2 separate regions of the Homo sapiens genome follow, and region 1 is linked to region 2. The links come from fine-mapping of genetic effects on gene expression. A gene starts in region 2. The other region holds a variant in brackets. All regions are shown on one strand. Distances are between the middles of the regions. Region 1 overlaps IDE (insulin degrading enzyme). Region 2 holds the start of KIF11 (kinesin family member 11).

Region 1 (2,500 bases), 38 kb before region 2:
GTTCAACATCAACACACTTATTGCAAATCAATAAATGTGATATACCACATTAACAGAATGAAGGGGGAACAACCCCACACAATCATCTCAATAGATGCAGAAAAAAGGCTAAGTATAGTGGCTCATGCCTGTCATCCCAGCATTTTGGGAGGCTGGGGTGGGAGGATGGCTTGAATTCAAGAGCTCAAGACTAGCCTGGGCAACACAGCAAGATACCGTCTCTACAAAAACAGCTGGGCATGATGGCACATGCCTATATTCCCAAGTACTCAGGGATGCTAAGGTAGAAAGGTCCCTTGAGCCCAAGAGTTTAGGTCTGCAGTGAGCCATGATTGCACCACTGCACTCCAATCAGGCTGACAAGAATGCAACAGTGTCTTAAAAAAAAAAAAAAAAAGATGGCCAGGTGCAGTGGCTCATGCCTGTAATCCCAACACTTTGAGAGGCCAAGGCAGGCGGATCACTTGAAGTCAGGAGTTCGAGACCAGTCTGACCAACATGGGAAAACCCCGTCTCTACTAAAAATACAAAATTAGCCAAGCGTGGTGGCACATGCCTGTAATCCCAGCTACTCGGGAGGCTGAGGCAGAAGAATTGCTTGAACCTGGGAGGCAGAGGTTGCAGTGAGCCAAGATCTCACCACTGTACTCTTGCACTCTAGCCTGAGCAACAAGAGCAAAATTCCATCTCAAAAAAAAAACAAACAGAAAAATACCTCTTCACAGATAGCTTTCAGATGCCACATGCAGGAGCTGTGAAAAAAGGGGGGAAAAATAGAGCAGAAAAATAATTTGACAAAATTCAACAGCCTTTCACGGTAAAAACTCTCAACAAATTAGGTATACAAGGAATACCTCCATTGTGTACTTCAGTACAATAAGAGCCATGGAAGACAAGCAAACAATGAACGTATTCAGCAGTGAAAAGCTGAAAGCCTTTCCTCTATAATCAGGAACAAGCATGACAAGGATGCCCACTCTCATTTCTATTCATCAATGATAATTTTCTGATTCTGATGGTATTGTGATGATATAGAAAATCACACTAAAGAGGCCGGGCACAGTGGCTCACGCCTGTAATCCCAACACTTTGGGAGCTGAGATGGGGGGATCACCAGAGGCCAGGAGTTCAAGACCAGCCTGACCAACATGGTGAAATCCCATCTCTACTAAAAATACAGAATTAGCCAGGCATGGTGGCACATACCTGTAATCCCAGCTACTTGGGAAACTGAGGCAGCAGAATCACTTGAACCCAGGAGGCGGAGGTTGCGGTGAGCCGTGATAGTGCCATTGCACTCCAGCCTGGGCAACAAGAAAAAAACTTTGTCT[C/CA]AAAAAAAAAAAAAAAAAGAAAATCACACTAAAGTATCCAATGGTCAAATTACTGTAATTGGTTCAGGAAAAAAATTATTTGCACTATATTGTACAATAAAAACTTTTCAGTATGAGATTGTTTCAAAAATACAGTATATCTCTTTCATGACAAAAATGCTGATCAAACTAGGAATAAAAGAGAATTTCCTCAACCTGAAAAAGGGACTCTATGAATAAGCTACTGCTAGCATCGTACTTAATGGTGACAGATAATGTTTTTACCATTAAGATCAAGAAGATGACAAGGATTTCCACTCTTGCCACTTCTATTCAACACTGTCCTGGAAGTTCTAAACAGACCAATTAGGCAAGAAAATGAAATAAACGGCGTACAAATTAGAAAGAAAAAAGTAGGCCGGGCGCGGTGGCTCACGCCTGTAATCCCAGCACTTTGGGAGGCCGAGGCGGGTGGATCACGAGGTCAGGAGATCGAGACCATCCTGGCTAACAAGGTGAAACCCCGTCTCTACTAAAAATACAAAAAATTAGCGGGGCGCGGTGGCGGGCGCCTGTAGTCCCAGCTACTCGGGAGGCTGAGGCAGGAGAATGGCGTGAACCCGGGAAGCAGAGCTTGCAGTGAGCCGAGATTGCACCACTGCAGTCCGCAGTCCGGCCTGGGTGACAGAGCGAGACTCCGTCTCAAAAAAAAAAAAAAAAAAAAAGAAAGAAAAAAGTAAAATTAGCTCCATTTGCAGAAGACATGATCTTGAATATAAAAATATCAATTGTATTTCCATACAGTAGCAATGAACAAACTAAAAATAAGAAAACAATTAATAATAGCATCAAAAAATAAAATACTGGGTGGGCACAGTGGCTCATGCCTGTAATCCTAGCACTTTGAGAGGCTGAGGCGGGTGGATGACCTGAGGTCAGGAGTTCGAGACCAGCCTAACCAACATGGTGAAACCCTGTCTCTACAAAAAATACGAAAATCAGGCTGGGTGCAGTGGCTCACCCCTATAATCCCAGCACTTTGGGAGGCCAAGGCAGGTGATCACCTGAGGTCAGGAGTTCGAGACCAGCCTGGCCAACATGGTGAAACCCTGTCTCTACTAAAACTACAAAAATTAGCCGGGCGTGGTGGTGGGTACCTGTAATCCCAGCTACTCGGGAGGCTGAGGCAG
Region 2 (3,023 bases):
GCTCCTGTTTCAGTATTTCCTGGTGCGGCGTACCACACCTACAGCGGTCGAGTCACGCCAGGCACTGCCAAGACGCCGAAAAGTTCTCCCGCAGCAGGCCGGAGGTGACCGACGGCGCGCAGGCCCCAGCGAGCGCTGCATGCTGGGATCCGTAGGCCGGGGCGGCGGATGTTTGCGCAGCTTCCTTGAGATGCCACCGCCCGCTGCGCCGCGCAGAAACGGGGAGCGCAGCGCACCCGCGGCCTGCGTCACTCGGTCAGTGCAGTCGTTCTAAAATCGAGGCGGACCCTGCTTTCTTGCCTGGAGTCACTTAGAGATGATGACTAAAGGATAAATTCAGAGTCCTCCAAATGGCGTCCAGTGTCCATTTCATCACGATTTGGAACCTGTAGTAGCCTTATCGCTTAACACTTCCTAATTATTATTATTATTATTTTCTTTTTGAGAAAGGGCATTGCTCTGTCGCCTATGCTGGAGTAATCCAGCGACATAATCCCGGCTCACTGCAGCCTCTATCTCCCGTGTTCAGCGATCCTTCTTCCTCAGCATCCCGAGTAGATGGGACCAAAAGGCACGCATCACCACACCAGGCTATTTTTTCCCCTCTATTTTTTGTTGAGACCCGTTGGGAGGCGCGGGGAGGGGGGTCTCCCTATGTCGCCCAGACTGGTCTCAAACTCCTGGAACTTAAGTTATCGTCCTACCTCGGCCCGTTAAAGTGTTGGGATTACAGGCCTGAGCCACCGGGCCCCAACATTAATTATTCTTCAAGCCTATTCTGGACCGGGCGCGGTGGCTCACGCCTGTAATCCCAGCACTTTGGGAGGCCGAGGCGGGTGGATCATCTGAGGTCAGGAGTTCGAGACCAGCCTGGCCAACATGGTGAAACCACATCTCTACTGAAAATACAAATATTAGCCGGGCGTGGTGGCACGCACCTGTAATCCCAGCTACTCGGGGGCTGAAGCAGCAGAATCGCTTGAACCTGCGAGGCGGAGGTTGCAATGAGCCGAGATCGCGCCACTGCACTCCAGCCTGGGTGACAAGAGCAAGACTCCGTCTCTCACACACACACACACACACACACACACACAAAGACTATTCTGGTCTCTGCCTCCGGGATGGCGGCTCGCTTTGGACCTCTCTTCTGTGCTTCTACTGCCCTCTCTTACAATTCTCTAATAATTATAATCATGGCGAGTGCTTACCATATATTCCAATCTATTTACTTCCACAAGCTCATTAATTCTCACCCTAACCCTCTGAGATGGTTACTATTATTTCCTCTCTGCAGCTGAGGGAATTTTGGGCTAGGGACGTTATGTAAGTTGAGCCACGCTACGCTAAAAGTTCCACACTCAATTCTAGCGTCTCGGCTCTGGACTACCAAGTTCCGGAGCAAGCAGACAGACCACCTCTTTACGTTCCCGTAGGCCACGCTCCGGGGGCGGGGCTCCAGTGAGGATACTGCATCCCATGGTGCCTTGCGCGCCAGCGCAGCCATTGGTCCGGCTACTCTGTCTCTTTTTCAAATTGAGGCGCCGAGTCGTTGCTTAGTTTCTGGGGATTCGGGCGGAGACGAGATTAGTGATTTGGCGGCTCCGACTGGCGCGGGACAAACGCCACGGCCAGAGTACCGGGTAGAGAGCGGGGACGCCGACCTGCGTGCGTCGGTCCTCCAGGCCACGCCAGCGCCCGAGAGGGACCAGGGAGACTCCGGCCCCTGTCGGCCGCCAAGCCCCTCCGCCCCTCACAGCGCCCAGGTCCGCGGCCGGGCCTTGATTTTTTGGCGGGGACCGTCATGGCGTCGCAGCCAAATTCGTCTGCGAAGAAGAAAGAGGAGAAGGGGAAGAACATCCAGGTGGTGGTGAGATGCAGGTAGGGAGAGGGCTGACAGGATTCCGAGCGCTGCGGCTTCGCTGCTGGGCCCCCTACTGCGCGGTCCAGGGAGAGGGATTTTATTTGCATTTCCTGAGGGTCCCAGTTTCTTGGTTCTCCGCGTTCTGTTCAATAAAAATGACACCCGGTTGCTGTGTGTATGTGGTTTTTAGGAGAAAATAACATGTTTGATTTGATCACTGTTCCATACTGAAAAGTGCGTTCTTATGTTTAAACTATAGTCAATAAAGATGTAGGTGTCACTTTTATATGCTACTTCATGTAGTTTGTCAGTTTGGAAGTAAGACTGAATACCTATTTTGCAGATGGTTAAGCACTTACGTTGGTATTATTACCTCTAAAAAGCAATCAATCACTGTTCTCTTTATTCTAGATGCAATATTTTCTGCATCCCTACTAAACAAGTAAACATCTCTGTCTTTAAACATTAAAAATTAATAAAGTGAGTTTATGTTTTTTAAAAGATCAAGACAAGTTAAGCTAGTGTAAATTTCTGATTGTGCTGCAGTTTTCCCTTTCATCTGCGTGTTTGTTCATAGACCAAACTAAACGGATATTTCGAGATAAAGGGATGTGGAGGGGTGTTCGGCCCTCCCCTGACTGGTTTCCAAATAACTTCCCAATTTTAAAATAAGCTAGAAACTGCTGCTTAGTTAGAATTGATTTATTCAACTTTTTAGAGGCTCTCCACAGTTTACTGAGTATGTGTGTTTTGTGTGTCCGTTTTTGTGGCTGTTAACAGTTGCTGTTGCAACTTTTCTGTAAACCCCAAAGTATTCTAAAATTAAAAGGTTATTTTTTAGAAAAACTTGTATCAACAAACTTTCTTAGGCTATTGTTTACTCAGCCCTGGTAACTTGAATTGTGGATATCGAAGGTGATGACTAGGTTTCTAAACAAGGTGTCAGAGAGGAAATTGGGTGGCAATCTTAAGTCTAGCCAGTGACACTTACTAGTTGTTGTACTCTGGGGCTTCTGTTAGTAGTTAGTTGTTTGAAGATTTTTATTTAAAAATGCAGTGCATATAACAAGTGCAAATTTTAAAATTATTTTGGTTGTTTAATAAAACCAGGCAATATTACCTTTTCCGTATGCATTTATTTAATTTCTTTTTTAATGTTAGT

Evidence for each region. PIP is the estimated chance that this variant, and not a neighbour inherited with it, causes the effect.
Region 1: its variant is fine-mapped to the expression of KIF11 in whole blood (INTERVAL, PIP 0.96).

What each region holds. Positions count from the first base shown.
Region 1 is chr10:92,554,166-92,556,665 of GRCh38, forward strand. All of the region lies in intron 1 of IDE (insulin degrading enzyme), which reads right to left. Among named protein-coding and RNA genes, the nearest start is that of IDE, 19 kb to the right of the region's middle. The variant C/CA (reference allele first, on the strand shown) is at 1,332.
Region 2 is chr10:92,591,575-92,594,597 of GRCh38, forward strand. KIF11 (kinesin family member 11) reads left to right here and starts at 1,556. Exons shown (of 22, transcript NM_004523.4): 1 at 1,556-1,878. The coding sequence starts at 1,802. RefSeq lists enhancers at 271-360, 1,171-1,360, 1,391-1,440, 1,542-2,293 and silencers at 1,761-1,810, 1,891-1,960.